2 separate regions of the Homo sapiens genome follow, and region 1 is linked to region 2. The links come from fine-mapping of genetic effects on gene expression. A gene starts in region 2. The other region holds a variant in brackets. All regions are shown on one strand. Distances are between the middles of the regions.

What was found. PIP is the estimated chance that this variant, and not a neighbour inherited with it, causes the effect.
Region 1: its variant is fine-mapped to the expression of CATIP in whole blood (TOPMed, PIP 0.96).

The regions. Positions count from the first base shown.
Region 1 is chr2:218,389,190-218,399,830 of GRCh38, forward strand. SLC11A1 (solute carrier family 11 member 1) reads left to right here. Exons shown (of 15, transcript NM_000578.4): 9 at 681-839; 10 at 2,009-2,098; 11 at 2,187-2,306; 12 at 3,792-3,941; 13 at 4,931-5,004; 14 at 5,443-5,596; 15 at 5,736-7,705. The coding sequence ends at 5,846. It also overlaps a transcript of CTDSP1 not described here. Among named protein-coding and RNA genes, the nearest start is that of CTDSP1, 5.4 kb to the right of the region's middle. RefSeq lists enhancers at 3,391-4,060, 4,730-5,398, 5,399-6,067, 7,237-7,366 and silencers at 6,747-7,086, 9,327-9,596, 10,287-10,641. The variant ATGTG/A (reference allele first, on the strand shown) is at 5,901.
Region 2 is chr2:218,352,807-218,363,447 of GRCh38, forward strand. CATIP (ciliogenesis associated TTC17 interacting protein) reads left to right here and starts at 4,051. Exons shown (of 10, transcript NM_198559.2): 1 at 4,051-4,103; 2 at 4,289-4,381; 3 at 4,728-4,928; 4 at 5,231-5,286; 5 at 7,767-7,853; 6 at 9,929-10,096. The coding sequence starts at 4,079. It overlaps CATIP-AS2 (CATIP antisense RNA 2), which reads right to left and starts at 5,160. Exons shown (of 4, transcript NR_125777.1): 1 at 5,108-5,160. It also overlaps the pseudogene RPL19P5. RefSeq lists an enhancer at 3,946-4,457.

The DNA.
Region 1 (10,641 bases), 36 kb after region 2:
TTGGGGAAGTAGATCAGGGAAAAGATATTACAAGCGGAGGGAAAGCAAGTGCAAAGGCCACTGGCAGAAGTGAACAAGGCTTGGGTCCCTAACAGCTTAACAGTGGCTCACACCTGTAATCTCAGCATTTTAAGAGGCCAAGACAGGAGAATGCTTGAGCCCAGGAGTTCAAGGCTAGCCTAGCAAGACCCTGTCTCTGCAGAAAATTTAAAAATTAGCGGGTTGTAGTGGTGTGTGTCTGTGGTCCCAGCTACTTAGGAGGCTGGGGCAGGAGGATCACTTGGGCCCATGAGTTGGAGGCTGCAGTGAGCCATGCATTGCACCACGGCACTCCAGTCTGGGTGACAGAACAAAACCTGTCTCTAAAAAATAAAATAAAGTAAGCTGGACACGTCTGAGGATGGAACAAGGTGAGTGAAGGAGCGTGTCAGGACCTGAGGTAGCCAGGGACCTCAAAGGCCAGCCTTGCTTCACCCACACAGTGGCTTACAGTGGTAAGGCCTCTGTGGCAAGAACAGAGATGTAGGAAACCATCGGCTGACCTGAACCTGCCCCAGACTGCCACGCAGGGGACTTAAGAAGGTACTGGGCTTTGGGGAGAACATAGAAGTGTGAGGGTGGGGGACACTGTGGTGGCTCTGAGGGACTTTGGCACTTCCCTCTCCCTTTGATCTTCGTAGTCTCGAGAGATAGACCGGGCCCGCCGAGCAGACATCAGAGAAGCCAACATGTACTTCCTGATTGAGGCCACCATCGCCCTGTCCGTCTCCTTTATCATCAACCTCTTTGTCATGGCTGTCTTTGGGCAGGCCTTCTACCAGAAAACCAACCAGGCTGCGGTGAGACACACTTTCCCCCGCACCTGAGGCCACACACGTACTCATGTCCTGTAAGCCTTGCCGAGGACCCTAGGCAATGCAGCTGAGCCCTTCTGAGTCTCTGCCCTGATGATCTTCCCTGTTGGCAGATATCATTCATTCAGCAAATAATCATTGAGCATTTGTTATATACCAAGCACATCCTAGACCCTGGGGATACAGCAGTCAATGCTACAAAGACCCAGCTCTCTGCAGCTTAAATAGGGAGGGAGGTGAGCAGACAGGAATGAATACCCAAGGGAAGTACAGAGTGGGAAGAAATAAAGGGGGTGAAGAAGCATAGTTGGGGGTATGGGGGTGGGGTCTGCATTAGCCCAGGTGGTCAGGAAAGGCTTCTTGGAAGAGATGACATTTGTGCTAATACTGGAAAAGGAACTAGCCAGCTCCTCCCTGACTCTCTGGGATCTGGGACCTGTGTCTGTCTCCCCTTCTGAGTGGATCTCAGTCATGAGGCTCTAACAACTGCAGCCAGGGTTGGGGGCTTCCTGAATGCTGAGCCCTGTGGGAGAAGGGGTGGCCAGGCCTCCAAGGACCTGGGCACTGCCACTGCCTTGCTCTGTGACCTTGGGAGGTCACACTCCTCCCTGGGTCTCACTCTGTTCCTTGGCACAAGGAGGGAGATCAACATCAGGACTGCAAACCCTTGTCTTCAAGACCAGGCAGGCGCAGAGTTGTGGGAAGTGGACAGTGTGAAGAGGGCATGGCAGCCAGCTGTCTCTGTGGTGATGCCAGCTCTTACGAACCTAAAAGAAGCTGGAAACTGGGTTCTTATGCCAGGCCTTCTCAATTTTAAATGTTGGCAACAAATCCACATTAAAGAAAAAAAAAACCCGGCCGGGTGCGGTGGCTCACGCCTGTAATCCCAGCACTTTGGGAGGCTGAGGCAGATGGCTCGCTTGAGCCCGGGAGTTCAAGACCAACCTGGGCAACATGACAAGACCCCCATCGCTACAAAACGTAAAAGTAAAACAAAACAAAACCCAACTTATTTTGTTAGCCAAACAAAATATGTCTGGCCAGATTCAGCCTTGGGCCACCAGTTTTGGAACCCTGGTCAGTGCTAGGCAGTCCAGTTTCCCAAGGCTGAGCGTGCTCCTCACATCTTCCTTCTACTGCCCTGGTACCCACAGTTCAACATCTGTGCCAACAGCAGCCTCCACGACTACGCCAAGATCTTCCCCATGAACAACGCCACCGTGGCCGTGGACATTTACCAGGGGGTGAGCGCGGGTGGGTGGGGAGGGCGTGACCCAGAGAGGCTCCCCGCCTCGGGCAGGGCCACCGGTCCTACCACACTCGTCCCTGCAGGGCGTGATCCTGGGCTGCCTGTTCGGCCCCGCGGCCCTCTACATCTGGGCCATAGGTCTCCTGGCGGCTGGGCAGAGCTCCACCATGACGGGCACCTACGCGGGACAGTTCGTGATGGAGGTAGGGCAGGGGGCGGGCCCAGGAGGGCAAGGGGTCCAAGGACAGCAGGCACACTACTGGGGGCTAGAACTCCGAGCCTTGTGGGTCCTCTTTTCTTTTCTTTCTTTTCTTCCTTTTTTTTTGTTTTTGTTTTTGTTGTTGTTGTTGAGACGGAGTCTCGCTCTTGTCGCCCAGGCTGGAGTGCAGTGGCGCGATCTCGGCTCACTGCAACCTCCCCCTCCCAGGTTCAAGCTTCTCCTGCTTCAGCCTCCTCAGTAGCTGGGATTTCAGGCACCTGCCACCAGGCCTGGCTAATTTTTGTACTTTTAGTAGAGACAGGGTTTCGCCATGTTGGCCAGGCTAGTCTTGAACTCTTGACCTCAAGTGATCCGCCTGCCTTGGCCTCCCAAAGTGCTGGAATTACAGGTGTGAACCACCGCACCCGGCCAATTTTTGTATTTTTAGTAGAGACGCAGTTTTGCTGTGTTGGCCAGGCTGGTCTCAAACTCTTGACCTCGTGATCCGCCCGCCTTGGACTCCTGAAGTGCTGGGATTATAGGCGTGAGCCACTGCGTCCGGCCTTTTCTTTTCTTTCTTTCTTTCCTTTTTTTTGAGACGGCGTTTCGCTCTTATTGCCCAGGCTGGAGTGCAATGGCGCGATCTCCGGCTCACCGCAACCTCCACCTCCTGGGTTCAAGCAATTCTCCTGCCTCAGCCTCCTGACCAGCTGGGATTACAGGCCACCACACCCAGCTAATTTTGTATTTTCAGTAAAGACGGGGTTTCTCCATGTTGGTCAGGGTGGTCTCGAACTCCCAGCCTCAGGTGATCTGCCCTCCTCAGCCTCCCAAAGTGCTGGGATTACAGGCGTGAGCCACCGCGCCCGGCTCTTTCTTTCTTTTTTGAGACAGGATTTCACTCTGTTGCTCAGGCTGGAGTGCAATGGCGCCATCACAGCTCGCTGCAGCCTCAACTTCAGCCTCCCGAGTCATTGGGACTACAGGCTCATGCCACCACACCAGGCTAATTTTTAAAATTATTTGTAGAGATGTGGTCTTCCTATGTTTCCCAGGCTGGTCTCGAACTCCTGGGCTCAAGTGATCTTCCCGCCTTGGCTTCCCAAAGTGCTGGGATTACAGACGTGAGCCACCCCACTCAGCTTTGTTTCCTTCATGTAGCCCAGAGGGCGACACTATAAGCCCCATTTTACAGATGAGAAAACAGATCCTGACAGATGAGGTGACTTGCTGGAAGCTGCAGACCCAGGACTAACAGAAGCCTTTTCCCCAAAACTGTTTAGTCTTCAGCAACCAGCTATGGGATGGGAGCTCCCCATTTCTCCCCACCCATCCCCTCTTGCCACCTAGGGACAGAGCTGTCCCAGTTCAACAGTGGAAAAACAGAGCATGCCCCCAGGGATAAATCGGTTGAGGGACTACAGAGGATCTCTCCTCTGGAATCCCCAGTCCTGTCTACTCCTCACCAAGGAGTTCACCCCCACCCCAGGGCTTCCTGAGGCTGCGGTGGTCACGCTTCGCCCGTGTCCTCCTCACCCGCTCCTGCGCCATCCTGCCCACCGTGCTCGTGGCTGTCTTCCGGGACCTGAGGGACTTGTCGGGCCTCAATGATCTGCTCAACGTGCTGCAGAGCCTGCTGGTGAGATGCGCCAACCCCACCAGCCCTGCCCACTGCTGAGCGAAACAGGACCTCCAGCAACCCCCACGCTGAGCCTTGCATGGGCCTGCCAGGCCCTGTCCCAGGCACATCTTGCCTACAAGGCTTCCATTGTCCCCACAGCCACCCTGGGGGGCAGGAGGGTAGGAATCACCATTATCCTTCCCCCCTCCCACCCCCCAGATGGTCTCCCTCTGTCACCTAGGCTGGAGTGCAGTGGTTCAATCATGGCTCACTGCAGCCTGCCCTCCCTGTCTCTAGCAATCTTCCCACCTCAGGCTCCCGAGTAGCAGGGACTATAGGTGCATGCCATCACACCCAGCTAATTTTTTTTTTTTTTTTTTTGAGACGGAGTTTCACTCTTGTTACCCAGGCTAGAGTGCAGTGGTGAGATCTTGGCTCACTGCAACCTCTGCCTCCCAGGTTCAAGCGATTCTTCTGCCTCAGCCTCCTAAGTAGCTGAGATTACAAGCGCCCACCATCACACCCAGCTAATTTTTTGTATTTTTAGTAGAGACAGGGTTTCATCATGTTGGCCAGGCTAGTCTCAAACTCCTGACCTCAGGTGATCCACCCGCCTTGGCCTCCCAAAGTGCAAGGATTACAGGCATGAGCCACTGAGGCAGGTCTAATTTTTTTTTTTTTTTAAGTAGAGACAAAAGCTCATTATGTTTGTTGCCCAGGCTCATTATTCCATTTTACAGATGGGAAAACTGATGCACTCAGTTAAGTTACTAGTGGCAGGGCTTGGATTCAAACCGAAGCAACCTGGTGCCAGAGCCCCCAAACACTTTCTCCTGCTTTGGAGCCCACAACCTGATAAGGCAGGAGACGGGGAAGTAGGCTCAGTGTGGTTAGGGCAGTTGAGCTCACACCCACACAGAGGGTGTCAAGCCACGCCCATCTTGCCCCCACCCTTGCCATATTCTGAGGCAGAATTCCTCAGCCTAGGCTCCTGCTGCTCTCCCCAGCTCCCGTTCGCCGTGCTGCCCATCCTCACGTTCACCAGCATGCCCACCCTCATGCAGGAGTTTGCCAATGGCCTGTGAGTACCCCCTTTCCCAAGTGCTGGATTGCATCACCACATTTCATCCTCACAGCCACCCAGAGGTACGAGCTACAATTCTCCCCATTATCCCAATGAAGCCACAGAGGCTGAGAGAGGTTAAGGGACTTACCCAGGTTCACACAGCTAGCAAGTTGAGGAGCCAAGACTGGAATCCAGGGAAGAGGGCTGTTTCTAGAGCCTGAGCGCCTCACTCTCGCCTCAGACTCAGCTCTTGCCAAATCCCGCCAGTGTGTAGCCTGGAGGGCCCAGGAGGCAGGAGGTGGGGAGGGGGTCTGTCTGCTCCAGGTCCCACAGACCAGAGAAGCGGCCTCAGTGTATCCCCACCCCCAGTGTGGGCGCTGGGAGATGAAGAGGAGTTGATGCAGGTGGGCCAGCAGCAACCAGCCAGTCCTGAGCCTCTCTCGTGTCCCCCAGGCTGAACAAGGTCGTCACCTCTTCCATCATGGTGCTAGTCTGCGCCATCAACCTCTACTTCGTGGTCAGCTATCTGCCCAGCCTGCCCCACCCTGCCTACTTCGGCCTTGCAGCCTTGCTGGCCGCAGCCTACCTGGGCCTCAGCACCTACCTGGTACAGTAGGGCCAGGGGATGCCTTGGGAATGGATGAGGGAAGGACAAGAGGCAACCAATGGGGAGGGTTTGGGGGGACACAATGGGGCTTCCCCAGAGGTCTTGGCATCTCCCCAATTCATGGTTGCCCCTCCCCCAGGTCTGGACCTGTTGCCTTGCCCACGGAGCCACCTTTCTGGCCCACAGCTCCCACCACCACTTCCTGTATGGGCTCCTTGAAGAGGACCAGAAAGGGGAGACCTCTGGCTAGGCCCACACCAGGGCCTGGCTGGGAGTGGCATGTATGACGTGACTGGCCTGCTGG[ATGTG/A]GAGGGGGCGCGTGCAGGCAGCAGGATAGAGTGGGACAGTTCCTGAGACCAGCCAACCTGGGGGCTTTAGGGACCTGCTGTTTCCTAGCGCAGCCATGTGATTACCCTCTGGGTCTCAGTGTCCTCATCTGTAAAATGGAGACACCACCACCCTTGCCATGGAGGTTAAGCACTTTAACACAGTGTCTGGCACTTGGGACAAAAACAAACAAACGAAAAACATTTCAAAAGGTATTTATTGAGCACCTGCAGGCGTGACCTGACAGCCCAAGGGTGGGTGGGGTGAGGGCTTGAGGACTTGGGCGGGACACAGGCTCCAAACTGGAGCTTGAAATAGTGTCTGATGAATGTTAAATTATCTATCTATCTATTTATTTATTTATTTGAGACAGGGAAAGGGTCTCCCTCTGTTGCCAAGGCTGGAGTGCAGTGGCGCAATCTTAACTCATTGCAACCTCCACCTTCTGGGTTCAAGCGATTCTCTTTATTCAGCCCCGGGAGTGGCGCGCGCCACCACGCCCAGCTAATTTGTGTATTTTCAGCAGAGACGGGGTTTGCCATGCTGGCCAGGCTGGTCTCGAACTGCTGGATTCAAGTGATCCGCCCATCTCCGTCTCCCAAAGTGCTGGGAATTACAGGCGTGAGCCACCAAACCCGGCCTGATTAAAGTTAAATAAATACTAGTTCCCTTCTCGTCCAAAGGAGCAGGGAATGGGAACCGGGAAGGCACGAAGTCTCTAAAGCATCCAGAAGACCCCTACACCAGGGTCTGGTCCGCTCCTATTCGCCGCAGCCTTTCTGTTCCGCCTGCAACCCATTTTCCAGACAGTAAAACGGCGGCGCACTTCTTTCTCCGTCAGGCACCAGGTCATAAGGAACCCAAGAGTCTGTGCCTCTGAGGCCCAAATTATTTGCTGTTTCCTCAGGGGAGCCGGCGGCCGCGACTCCCACGCCGCGCCGTTACCGCTCCCTCTCTGCTGACTGCTCCCCCTAGGGGCAGAGACGGTCCCGACGCCCGCCATCCCGCCCCGGCCTCACCCCTCCCCGCCAGGCGGAACGACGCGGGGAGGCGGGCGCTCGGGGCTCGCGCCAGGGGCCCCAGAATCCTTCGGGGAGAGTGGGTGGGAGGAAGCTGTGTGGGCGGGGAGCCCCCTCTGCCTTAGGGAGCGGCTGGGCACCCATTCGCCCCATTCAGGGGCTGCACTTTATAGACGTTCCCTAGGCTGTTTCTAGGCTCCCCCAAGTCCCTCCTCCAGCCTCGTCGGGTCCCTCAGACCCCAGCCCAGGACCTGCGGAGGGCCGCAGCGAGGAGAGGCCAACAGGCCTTTCCCTAGAGTTGAACCTGGGCCGGGTGTTGCACCTGGAAGAACCCCCGATTTCCTGGGGACCCAGCAGGGCAGGCGGCCTGGCTCCGCGCTCAGGTCCGGACGCTTGTTTATGAGAAGAATTTCCTCTTTCTTAAAAGGGCAACGATGCGAGTGGGTCCCTCAAGGAGAGAAGAGATGGGACCGGTCTGGTGCGACCTGGGCAAGCGCTGCAGAGGGTACCTGGGCAAGAGGGCCGCCCGCCTCCTCTGGGTTTGGCACTGGAGAAGATGGGTCCATGCCAGCTGAAGGAGGAGATGGATGGGGGACGTTTAGCGAAGAAAGGCATCTCCCAGATCCTTTAGCCTCCTGGAAGTGCCCCCGTTGTACCCCCTACACACCCCTCTTGGCATTGAGTGCCAGTCCTCTGCCAGGCTCTGTGTTACAAGTTGGGGAGGGCGGCAAAGTCCCGAATTAAAGATGTCAGTTCTCAAGGACCCCACACTCCAGCGGCGGGAGACAGCTGTGCAAACAAGTCCCTGTGGCAGGATGCGGTGAAGGGCGCTGCCCGTGACGCCAGCCAGGGAAGGGGACTGAATCTTGCTGAAGGGGGGGTCGGCGGTAGGGGGGAGTGTTGACAGGACAGCCCAGGAGGAATGAGAGTGCCAGGAGCATGGGGGCACGTGTGTGCACATCTGCCAAGACCTGAAGCTTTCTGGGGACGTCTTAGATCTTGTGGGGCAGGACGGGGGACGGCAGAGTAATGGGCAGGTTGGTCAAGAAGACACGGAGACCCGGCTAAAGGGCTACCCAGGACCTGGGCAAAGGGCTAGTGATGAGGTCGCGCCAAGGTCAGTCATTTGGACACTGGAAGGCGTCTACTTAGAGCTGCCCCCATTCCCCCCATAGTAGCTCTGGTTCTTCCAGCCTGGCCTCAAATCGACCCTCCAGGAAGAGGGGTGCAGAGTTGCTCTTCTGGAAGCTCCCTTTAGGCCTCCCAGGGAGGGCGTGGTCGCACTTGGCACTCCCCAAGAGCCTGCTGAATGCACCCCGACTTTGTGCACGGCTCCCCGCCTCCCCCTGGGTTGGGCTTTTACCAGCCCTGTTTGGCAGATGGGGAAACTGAGGGACTGTGTTGGAAGAGACGCTTCCAAATCCACAGGTGCCAGACAGCACCTTGCTGAATCCCGTTCCTGCCCCTCCCCGTTTCTGACTTGTGGCCCCCATGATTTTATTTTTCCTGGGGTGCGAATGATAAAACAGACAAAAAATAGAGTGCATAAAGCGACCTCCACCTGTAGAGACAGAGGGCAGCTGGGTGTAGACAACCCCTACAGTGAGGACACTCGAAGGACCCCCCTCCCCCCACGCAATCCTGGCCTCTCGCTCACTCCGTAACTAACTACCCGCCCCAGGCGTGGGGAGATAAGTCCAGGGCTCCAGGCAGAAGGCGCGGCTACCTCTGCCGCTTTGGGAGCCTGGGAGGAGGAGTTAGGTCTCCCTGGGAAAAGAACTGCACGGGCAACGGCTTGAAGTGGCGATAAGATGGGGTGGAGGAGGTGGGGGATTCCTGAGGAATCCTGTGAGCTCAGGATGGCGCGTCTGGGAATGGTGGGTGTGGGGACAGCCGGCCAGGTACCAGCCCCCTTCACAGAGGGAGAGGAAAGCGCGCCACCCAACCCAGGCCAAGGGCGAGGCCACGACTCCACTCAGTCCCTCGCCACACGCTTCCTTTTGGGGTCATGAGGGCCCCGCATCCGGAGATAAAGCCGAGGCCCCACCCAGGGGGCCGGACCGCAGGGGAGACAGATGTCCCGCTCCCAGGCTGGAATCCCGCCTTTGCCCTTGCCGGTAGACCCGAAGCACGTCGCTTCCTTTCTTGAAACTCAGTTTCCTCATCTGTGAAATGGGTTAAGAAGGAGGCCGTTCTAAGGGGTAAATGAGATTAGGGGGCGCAGCCAGAGCAGGCCTAGGAAAACGCCAGCAGCGTGTGGCGATCACGGTGATGAAGCGCAATGGTGGCCGCCCCGTGGGCTACCCAGGAGCAGGAGGAGGGCCGAGGGATCCAGCCCGGGGACCGGGGTATCAGTCCCCGACAGTCCCCTCCCGCCCCTACTCCCAGCCTCAGCGCACGAAGCCGCCGCGCCTTCTGGCAGACGCCGCTCCCCTCCCTTCCCCTCCCGGCCCCCGCGCGGGGCCTCCCCTCCCCGGCTCCCCCTCGGCAGGGCCTGGCGGACGTGCGCCGCGTCGCACCCGGCGGCCGGACGGGACAGGACGCGCCCGCCCCGCCCCGCCACGGAGGCCCGCGGGAGAGGGGGAGGGGAGGAAGTGCCGAGGGGTGTTTGTCGGGCTTGGCATTATTAATTTTTAAATGGTGAACTTACAAAATAGTAACGACGAGTGAAAAGAACTTCATAAACGAGGAAAAAGACCAACCCGCAGACCCACGGCGCGCACCACGGAGGGGCTTGCAGCGAGAAGACAGGGACCTCCGTTCCCAAGTGCCCAGCACTGCGCCACAGGCCGGGTGGAACGGGCCTTGAGGGCCTCTGGTTTGAGGTCCCCCACGGTCGGGCTTTGGGCCCACCGCGTGCGGCGCCGTGCTGGGCTCCTAGGATCGGCAGCGAGTCCAGTGACTCCCACCGCACCCCCAGTAATCACAGGGCGGCCGTCGACCGCGGGCAGGGGAGGGGGTCTGGGAAGGCCCCTGGAGAAGGTGGCATTTCCTCGAGGTCGGTGGAATTTGGCTACGCGAAAGGAACAGCGCGTACGAAAACTTCAGGCGGGAACGCGCGGTGGCCCGTGCGCGGCGGGTAGACGTGCGGGGCCCCGGGTGGGGCCGTGGGGAGAGGTCGGCAGGGGGCTTTCCCAGGGCAGAGAGTTAGAATTTCACGTCCTACAGACCGGGGGCACCTCGCCCTGGGGCTGCGGGGGGCGGCGACCGTCCCATTCAAGAGCGTGATTCTGAGGTTTGCACAGCTGTTTCGGGCCAGCAGAGCCTTCGCTGGCTCTTGACGTCCTTGCGAGGTGATCTCTGCGACCACCAGACAGGAGAGAAGACCCATTTTACAGATGAGGTAGTGCTATCTCCAAGTCCTCAACGAGGAAACCGAGAAGCCTCTAGTCCCGGGTCTTCAGAAAACGCAGAGGTGGAGCCGCGCCGCACTCGGGCACTCCCCGGCGTGGGCGCTCCCGGCGGGCGGGCCTTGGCCGAGGGCGCTCGGCGGCCTGGAACGGTGAGCCGGGTGCCGGGCCTGCCACGCAGCCGCAGAGACTCAGCCCCGCCGGCGGGCGGCAGGAAGGGAGGCGACGCCCCCTGGAGCGCGGCAGGAACCCGGCCCGGCCCGCCTCCCAGTCCGCCTAGCCGCGCCGGTCCCAGAAGTGGCGAAAGCCGCAGCCGAGTCCAGGTCACGCCGAAGCCGTTGCCCTTTTA
Region 2 (10,641 bases):
GCACAGTGGTTTGTAGTTATCCTTGTAGAGATCTTTCACTTTCCTTGTTAGCTGTATTCCTAGGTAGTTTATTCTTTTTGTGGCAATAGTGAATGGGAGTTCGTTCATGAATTGGCTCTCTGCTTGCCTGTTGTTGGTATATAGGAATGCTAGCGATTTTTGCACGTTGATTTTGTATCCTGAGACTTTGCTGAAGTTGCTAATGAGCTTAAGAAGCTTTTGGGCTGAGATGATGGGGTTTTCTAGATATAGGATCATGTCATCTTCAAACAGGGATAGTTTGACTTCCTCTCTTCTTATTTGAATGCCCTTTTTTTCTTTCTCTTGCCTGACTGCTCTGGCCAGAACTTCCAATACTATGTTGAATAGGAAAATATAAATTTTAAAACATAAGTATTGGCTGGGCACGGTGGCTCACGCCTGTAATCCCAGCACTTTGGGAGGCTGAGGCGGGCGGATCACGAGGTCAGGAGATCAAGACCATCCTGGCTAACGTGGTGAAACCCTGTCTCTACTAAAAATACAAAAAAATTAGCCAGGTGTGGTGGCAGGCGCCTGTAGTCCCAGTTACTCAGGAGGCTGAGAGGCAGGAGAATGGCGTGAACCCGGGAGGCAGAGCTTGCAGTGAGCCGAGATTGAGCCACTGCACTCCAGCCTGGGGGACAGAGCGAGACTGTCTCAAACAAACAAACAAAAGTATTTTTAAAACTTTTAAGTTCAACTTACCAGTCATATAATTCTCATCATAAATCTAGTGAATGTTAACATTTTTTAGAAACAGGGTCTCACTATGTTGCCCAGGCTGGTCTTCAACTCCTGGCTTCAAATCATCCACCCACCTTGGCCTCCCATGGGATTACAGGTGTAAGCCCCTGCACCCAGCCAAGGGGGCTTTAATTAATAATTGGTTGGTCTTCTTTTCAAAATTAAAACTGCTTTAGGCAGCTTATACTGCAGTTGTTCATCCAATATATTTTATTTCCTTTTTTAAAGCGATTGATTGATAAACCAGCCTCCCAAATACCTTTACTGCAACCTAATAAAAGTAAACATATAAATACAGTAAATCTTAATTTTATTTTTTTTAATGTTCTGGTTCTACTTGCAATCTCAATAAGAAACTTTAAAATTCAAAATCAATTATTCAATAACCCAATTTAAACTTGAATCTGCAGACGTATCTTTTAAGCACTCTAATATACCAATTTTAAACATTTTAAGAACCTGAAATAACAGAGTTCTTTCCTTTCGCTGCTGCAGCCGCAGCCATAAATATGCTCAGGCTTTAGAAGAGGTTCGCTTCTAGTGTCCTCTGCTGTGGCAAGAAGGTCTGGTTGGACCCCAGTGAGACCAATGAAATCGCCAATGCCAGCTCCCATCAGCAGATCCGAAAGCTAATCAAAGATGGGCTGATCATCGGCAAGCCTGTGATGGTCCATTCCCAGGCTCCATGCCAGAAAAACACCTTGGCCTCCCGGAAGGGCAGGCACACGGGCATAGGTAAGCGGAAGGGTACAGCCAACGTCCGAATGCCAGAGGTCACGTGGATAAGGAGAATGAGGATTCTGTGCTGGCTACTCAGAAGATACCGTGAATCTAAGAAGATTGATCGCCACATGTATCACAGCCTGTACCTGAAGGTGAAGGGGAATGTGTTCAAAAACAAGCGGATTATCCTGGAACACATCCACAAGCTGAAAGCAGACAAGGCCTACAAGAAGCTCCTGGCTGACCAGGCGGAGGCCCGCAGGTCTAAGACCAAGGAAGTGTGGGCAGAGGATTACCCAGGTGCCGAGGCAAGAGACTGAAGGCACAGACGGTTTCAGTATAATAAAGAAAATAGTTAGAATAAGAATAGTCATAATACAAAGTAGATATAGAGATGATCATGGATAATTATCAATCATTATTATAAACATTATTAATCATTAGCTTTTAATATTACTCTTTGTTGCATTACTAATATAACCTAGGAATAACCGGCGGGTATAGGGTCAGGTGCTGAAGTGACATTGTGAGAAGTGACCTAGAAGGCAAGAGGTGAGCCCTCTGTCACGCCCCCATAAGGACCACTTGAGGGCTCCTTGGTCAAGCGGTAGTGCCAGTGTTTGGGAAGACGCCCATTACTTAGCAGACCGCGAAAGGGAGTCACCTTTCCTTGGAGGAGTCAGGGAACACTCCGCTCCACCAGCTTCTTGTGGAAGGTTGGATATTATCCAGGCCTGCCCGCAGCCATCCGGAGGCCTAAACCCCTCCCTGTGGTGCTGTGCTCCAAAGGTCACGCTCCTTGTCCACTTTCATGTTCCTGCCGTACTCCTGGTTCCTCTTTGAAGTTTGTAGTAGATGGCGGTAGAAGAAATAGTGAAAGTCCTAAAGTCTTTGATCCTTCTTATAAGTGCATAGAAGAAAACGCTGATGTATGCTGCCGTCTCTCTCTCTGCTTCGGCTACCTAAGAGGGAAGGGCCCCCTGTCCTGTGATCATGTGACTTGCTTCACCTTGTCAATCACTTAGAAGACTCGCCCTCCTTACCGTGCCCCCTTGTCTTGTGTGCAATAAATATCAGCGCGCCCAGCCGTTCTGGGCCACTACCAGTCTCCATGTCTTGATGGTAGTGGTCTCCCGGGCCCAGCTGTTTTCTCTTTGTCTCTTTGTCTTGTGTCTTTATTTATTACAATCTCTCGTCTCCACACACAGGGAGAACACCCGCTAAGCCCCGTAGGGCTGGACTCTACAGGTGGATCACTTGAGCTCAGGAGTTCAAGACCAGCCTGGCCAACATGGTGAAACCCCATCTCTACTAAAAATACAAAAATTAGCCAGGTGTGGTGGCGGGTGCCTGTAGTCCCAGCTACTTGGGAGACTGAGGCAGGAGAATCACTTGAACCTGGCAGGAGGAGGTTGCAGCTGAGATCATGCCACTGCATTCTAGCCTGGGTGACAGAGTGAGACTCTTTCTCAAAAATAATTAAAACAAACAAATAAATAAATAAAAATAATAAAAATAAAAATACAAAAATTAGCTGGGCATGGTGGCACACTCCTGTAGTTCCAGCTACTCAGGAGGCTGAGGTAGGAGAATCACTTGAACCCAGGAGGCAGAGGTTGCAGTGAGCCAAGATGGCGCCACTGCACTCCAGACTGGCAACAGAGTGAGACTCTCTAAAAAAAAAAAAAAAAGCGCCTCACCAGGAATAAGTCCAGTCAAAGAGTTTGCTATGTTGTCATTGTTGTTATCATTATTGTTACATGTATTAGAACTGTAACTTGCAGAGATATTCATGTAGCAGCTAATTGGATAGTGTGCATTTGAGACTCTGTCTGACTTTCGTTCATATCTTCTAAGGTCATTTTTTTTTTTTTGAGACAGATTACAGGCATGTGCCACCACTCCCTGGTAATTTTTGTATTTTTAGTAGAGATGGGTTTCACCATGTTGGCCAGGCTGGATCTCAAACTCCTGGCCTCAAGTGATCCACCTGCCTGGGACTCCCAAAGTGCTGGGATTACAGGTGTGAGCCACCACACCTGGCCTCTTCTAAGGTCATTCTAATGACCCATTTCTTCACTCTGCCTCTTAAGAATATCAAATGTGGGCCAGGCGCGGTGGCTCACACCTGTAATCCCAGCACTCTGGGAGGCTGAGGCAGGAGGATCACGAGCTCAGGAATTCAAGACCAGCCTGGCCAATATGGTGAAACCCCATCTCTACTAAAAATACAAAAATTAGCTGGGCGCGGTGGTGTGCGCCTGTAGTCCCAGCTACTCGGGAGGCTGAGACCTCAAGAAGAATTGCTTGAACCCGGGAGGCAGAGGTTGCAGTGAGATGAGAATGCGCCACTGCACTCCAGCCTGGGTGACAGAGCGAGATTGCGTCTCAAAAAAGAAAAAAATATATATCAAATGCTCCCTCTGCTGGACAACACCTCAAGCTTGTGCTGAGCCCCAAACCTGCAGTGTCAGTTCCCTCCAAGGTCTGGGTGTAGTAAAGTGGGTTGATGGCCCTTTAAGAGGCACTGTCCAGCTCTGGTTGCCATGGAGACAGCTGGACACAGACCGGGTAGAGGCAGGCCCACAGCATGTCCTCCAAGGTTTACTCCACAGGTGGGAAGAGGACTGCTGGGGCTGGAGGCGGGGATCCTCTTCTTTCTTCCCAATCCACCCTCGGGGTAGTCTTAGAGGATTCTGTTCTTGGGTGCTGGGGCCAGGACTGAGGTACCCTGCCTTGCCTCCCTGACCCCTGCCCTTCTCCCCAGGGTCTGCCATCTTAGCCTCTCATCCCTCTGTAGGCTCCAGAGCTAAGGACCACCAGCCCTCGGGTCCGGAGTGTCTGCCACTCCCAGAGGCCAATGCTGAAGCCATCGACTTCCTCAGCTCCCTCCGTGAGCTCAGACAGTGTCGGGGTTGGGGGTGCGGGAGGGGTGCAAGTCTGGAGAGGAGGGAAGAAAGTCCAGTCTCTCTCTCTCTCTCTCTCTCTCTCTCTCTTCCTTGATTCTCCTGGGACTCAGAAAAGGCCTGAGGCCTGTTTGTTGACATTCTTCAAGGGAAGGCCCCCCGGGGACATGGGGACATGGGGCAGGAGTCTTCACCTGTCCGTGCCAGTGAGGAAGGCTGTGGGATGAGGAGGCAGGTGGGGACTGTGGGGACACTGGTGGTCATGGGGTCAGAGGATTGGATTGGGGCCCAGGAGCAGGGGCTTTATCTGTTCCCACGGGCCCCTCACCCCAGACAAGGAGGAGCTACAGATGCTGTTCTTCTCTGAGACGCTGGCCATGGTCTCAGACACCGGGGAGCCTCAGGGAGAGCTGACCATTGAGGTGCAGAGAGGGAAATACCAGGAAAAACTCGGCATGCTGACATACTGCCTCTTCGTGCATGCCTCTAGCCGAGGCTTCTTGGACAAAATGCTCTGCGGAAATTCCCTCCTGGGTAGCGTTCCTACTGCCTGATGCCCGTCACTCTCCCCTTCCTCCAACCCTCCCCTCCACCAATTCCTAGAATCTTTTTTCAGGACCAAGCCCTTGGCTTTGCCTTGGACCAGGACAAGGCACGGGGTGGGAGAGGGATGAGCGAGTTCCTCATGGACTCGGGATGAGGGCACATCTTACCCATCCTGTAGTTTTTCTGGGACCGTATTACACCTAGTCCTCCAGCTGCGCCACCACCTTCCCTTCCTTCAGCCTCTGACCCACATCTCCTGTGACGTCAATGCCTGTGTCCCTGCACCCCAGGCTATCTCTCAGAGAAGCTGGAGCTCATGGAACAGCACAGCCAAGACTTCATCAAGGTACTTCCCAGGGCCCCAGCCTTGACCCAATCCAGGGGAGAGAAGACAGATTTTGACTTAAAAAACAGCAGCAACAACAAACCAAAAAACCTATTACATACACAGTGAAGCTGAAGAATAGCAATCGTGTTATGATGCAATGTAAAGCTCAAAAGCAACGCACTTCAGAAAACTGATTTTAAAACACGGGGGTGGGCTGGGCACAGTGGTTCACACCTGTAATCCCAGCACTTTGGGAGGCAGAGGTGGGCGGATCACCCTGAGGTCAGGAGTTCGAGACCAGCCTGGCCAACATAGCGAAACCTCATCTGTACAAAAATTAGCCAGGCATGGTGGTGCACGCCTGTAGTCCCAGCTACTCAGAAGGCTGAGGCAGGAGAATCGCTTGAACCCAGGAGGCAGAGATTGCCGTGAGCCGAGATCGCGCCACTGCACTCCAGCCTGGGTGACAGAGCAAGACTCCGTCTCAAGAAAAAAATTAAAAAACAATGAGGGTGGGCCAGGCACAATGGCTCAAGCCTATAATCCCAGCACTTTGGGAGGCCAAAGTGGGAGGATCCCTTGAGCCCAGGAGTTTGAGCCTGGGCAACATGGCAAAACCCACCAAAAATGTTTATAAATTTTGTACAAAAAATACAAAAAGTAGCTGGGTGTGGTAATGTGTGTCTGTAGTCCCAGCTACTTGGGAGGCTGAGGTGGAAGGTTCAGCGGAGCCCAGGAGGTCAAGACTGCAGTGAGCAATGTGCGTGCCACTGTACTCCAGCCTGGGTGACAGAATGAGACCCTGTCTCAAAAAAAAAAAAAAAAGAAAAAAGAAGAAAAAAGATGTAGGTTGGGCACGGTGGCTCACGCCTGTAATCCCAGCAATTTGGGAGGCTGAGGCAGGCGGATCACCTGAGGTCGGGAGTTGAAGACCAGCCTGACCAACATGGAGAAACCCTGTCTCTACTAAAAACACAAAATTAGCCGGGCGCAGTGGCTCACACCTGTAATCCCAACACTTTGGGATGCCGAGGCAGGTGGATCATGAGGTCAGGAGTTCAAGACCAGCCTGGCCAAGATGGTGAAACCCTACCTCTACTAAAAATACAAAAAGAAAATTATCCAGGCATGGTGGTGGGCACCTGTAATCCCAGCTACACGGGAGGCTGAGACAGGAGAATTGCTTGAACCCAGGAGGCGAAGGTCGCAGTAAGCCAGGATCACACCACTGCACTCCAGCCTGGGCAACAGAGCGAGACTCTGTCTCAAAAAAAAAAAAAAAAAAAAAAATGTTGGGGATGGTTTCTGGTTTCTGTGGGAAGGTTTTTAGACTTGAGTAGTTTCCAGTGTGTAAACAGGTCATGTTCACATTCCACAAGTTAATTAAGTGGCTGGGGCTGGGTGTGAGGGGCACAGAGCTGGGAGACTTGGAGGCCAGGTGAAACAGGCCCCCAGGGAAGGCTAGGCTCTGGGAAAGGCCAGCCCACCAGGCCTCCAGGGAGGCACTGGGCTCTCAGGCTGGAGGAGGGCTGGTGTGGGCTGGGTTCAGAGTTTGGGTATCAGGAGAACTTATCAGTGGCAACCTGCTGTCCCTGCACCTGGCCCACCCCCATCTTTTAAAACCAGTGTTCTGAAGTGCACTGTTTTTGAACTTTATATTGCATCATAACACGACTGCTATTCTTCAGCTTCACTGTGTATGAAAGGTGTTTTTTGGTTTTTGTTGCTGCTGCTTTTTTTTTTTTATTTTATTATTATTATTATTTTTGAGACAGAGTCTTGCTCTTATCACCCAGGCTGGAATGCAGTGGTGCAATCTAGCTCACTGCAACCTTCACCTTCCGGGTTCAAGCAATTCTCCTGTCTCAGCCTCCCAAGTAGCTGGGAATTACAGACATGCACCACCACACCTGGTTAATTTTTGTATCTTTAATAGAGATGGGGTTTTGCCATGTTGGCCAGGCTGGTCTTGAACTCCTGACCTCAAGTGATCTGCCCGCCTGGGCCTCCCAAAGTGCTGGGATTACAGGCATGAGCCACAACACCTGGCCCTGCTGCTTGGTTTTTTGTTTGTTTGTTTGTTTGTTTTTGAGATGGAGTCTCAAAAACAGCCTGTTGCCCAGGCTGGAGTGTAGTGGTGCGATCTCGGCTCACTGCAACCTCCGCCTCCGGGTTCAAGCAATTCTTCTGCCTCAGCCTCCCAAGTAGCTGAGACTACAGGCATGTGCCACCACACCCAGCTAATTTTTGTATTTTTAGTAGAGACGGGGTTTCACCGTGTTAGCCAGGGTGGTCTCAATCTCCTGACCTCGTGATCCGCCCACCTCGGCCTCCCACAGTGCTAGGATTACAGGCGTGAGCCACTGTGCCCGGCCCGGCTGCTTTTTTTTTAAGTCACAATCTTTAAACCTCAGTTTTCTCATTAATGGAGAAGGGTCAGGTGACCTCTGGGGGACCCAGGGAGTCCCTGATCCTCCCCCGCATGCTCTGGCCCTCAGTTCCTCATCCTCCCCATGGAACGGAAGATGAGTTTGCTGAAGCAGGATGATCAGCTGGCTGTGACCAGAAGTATCAAGGAGGGTGAGGTAAGGATGAGAGCCAGATGGGAGTTGCACTACACACTGTGAACCCAGAATATCTGAGACAGGTCCAGATCAATTTAGAGAGTTTATTTTGCCAAGGTTAAGGACGCGCACATGACACAGCCTCAGGAGGTCCTGAGGAAATGGGCCCAAAGTGGTTGGGGCACAGCTTGTTTTTTTTTTTTTTTTTTGAGACAGAGTTTCACATTTGTTGCAGAGGCTGGAGTGCAATGACGTGATCTCGGCTCACTGCAACCGCCACCTCCCGGGTTCAAGTGATTCTCCTGCCTCAGCCTCCCGAGTAGCTGGGATTATGGGCATGCACCACCACGCCCGGCTAATTCTGTATTTTTAGTAGAGAGGGAGTTTCATCCCTGTTGGCCAGGCTGGTCTCAAACTCCCGACCTCAGGTGATCCGCCCGCCTCAGCCTCCCAAAGTGCTGGGATTACAGGCGTGAGCCACCACGCCCAGCCTACAGCTTGGTTTTATACATTTTAAGGAGACACGAAACATCAATCAACACGTGTAAGATGTACACTGGTTCACCAGACGTAAAAATACAAAAAATTAGCCAGGCGTGGTGGCAGGCGCCTGTAGTCCCAGCTACTCGGGAGGGTGAGGCAGGAGAACGGCGTGAACCCGGGAAGTGGAGCTTGCACTAAGCTGAGATCACGCCACTGCACTCCAGCCTGGGCGACAGAGCAAGACTCCGTCTCAAAAAAAAAAAAAGATGTACATTGGTTCATTGGAAAAGGCAGGACAACTCGAGGCAGGGAGGGGGCTTCCAAGTCATAGGTAGATAAGAGACATGCTTTTAAGTTTCCGATTAGCCTTTCACTGAATACACAATTTACATGCTATGGGGGTTAGAAAAGTAGTCACTTATGCCTTACTCTGGCTTAGTGAAACAATAGAGCAGAGAAAGCCATCAGATATGCATTTATCTCACGTGAGCAGAGGGATGACTTTGAGTTCTGTCTGTCCTTTGTCCACAAGGAATTTCCTTGTGGGCAAATAGTGAGGGAGTTATATAGCTTTTTTTTCTCTTAGTAGCTACCTTGTTTAGGAATAAAATGGGAGGCAGCTTTGCCTGAGGCAGTTCCCAGCTTGACTTCCCTTTGGCTTAGTGATTTGGGGTCCCAAGATTTATTTTTCTTTCACAATGTCCTCTTCAGAACTCTGAGCGGGGACCAGATTAGATGAAGCCAGGAGTCCAGACTAACGATTCATTCATTAGGCTGGGCGCGGTGGCTCACGCCTGTAATCCCAGCTCTCAGAAGCAAGAGGCAGGAGGATAGCTTGAGCCTAGGAGTTCGAGACTTGCCTGGGCAATATAGCGAGACCCCGTTCTCCAGAAAAAGGAAAAAAAAAAAAGACAAGGATTCATTCATTAAAAACCATATGACCGGCTGAAGGCCAGGCGTGTGGTGACTCACGCCTGTAATTTCAGCACTTTGGGAGGCCAAGGCGGGCGGATCACTTGAGGTCAGGAGTGGAGACCAGCCTGGCCAATATGGTGAAATCCCCTCTAATAAAAATACAAAAATTAGCTGGGCGTAGTGTCGTGAGCCTGTAATCCCAGCTACTCAGGAGGCTGAGGCAGGAAAGTCGCTTGAACCTGGGAGCTGGAGGTTGCAGTGAGCTGAGATCGCACCACTGCACTCCAGTCTGGGCAACAGAGCAAGACCCTGTCTCAAAAAAAAAAAAAAAAAAGGCTCACGCCTGTAATCCCAACACTTTGGGAGGCAGAGGGGGCCTATCACCTCAGGTCAGGAGTTCAAGACTAGCCTGGCCAACATGGTGAAATCCGGTCTCTACTAAAATTACAAAATTTAGCCAGGCATGGTAGCCTGTAATCCCTGCTACTTGAAAGGCTGAGGCAGGAGATCGCTTGAACCAAGGAGGCGGAGGTTGCAGTGAGCTGAGACCACGCCATTGCACTCCAGCCTGGGTGACAAAAAGCGAAACTCTGTCTCAAAAAAAAACAAAACCGTATGCCCAACACCTGGCTTGCCCACCCTCCTGTCCCCTGCCCCTTCCTGGTTCCAGGACCCTGACCCAGATCAGTTCTGAACAGGAAGTGAAGACTGGAGTGACTTCTTTCCCCTGGAGCTCAATCAAGGGCTTCATCTCAGAGGCTGCCAACCTGGTGCTGCTCAGGGTGATGGCCTGGCGGCGGATGGTGCCCAGCAATGCCCGCTTCCTGACCTTGGACACCGAGGGCAAACTCTGCTATTTGACCTATGTAAGGGGTCCCCTTGGGCAGGGGACTTGGCTTGGGAGCGAACTAGAAAAGGCGTGAAAAGCACTGAGATGGGGAACAGCTGTGGAGTAGAAAAGGGAGGCAGGTGGGGAGAAAACAGCACAGGTGGGAATGGGGCTTTCAAGGGCAGGAAAGCATGTTTGTCTGGGAGTGTGGGGCAGATGAATTGAGAGTGACTGAGAAGTGGGAACAGTTCAGAGAAGCAACCCTTCCGCACAGAAGTCAGTCCAGGAAAAATAAATATAGTGCAGGGCTGATTTAAAAAATACATCATTTTGGGCCAGGTGTGGTGGCTCACGCCTGTAATCCCAGCACTTTGGGAGGCCAAGGCGGGCCGATCACAAGGTCAGGAGATCTAGACCATCCTGGCTAACATGGTGAAACCCCGCCTCTACTAAAAATACAAAAAAAAAAAATCAGCGGGGCGTGGTGGCAGGCGCCTGTAGTCCCAGCTACTCAGGACGCTGAGGCAGGAGAATGGCGTGAACCCGGGAGGCAGAGCTTGCAGTGAGCCGAGATCGCGCCAC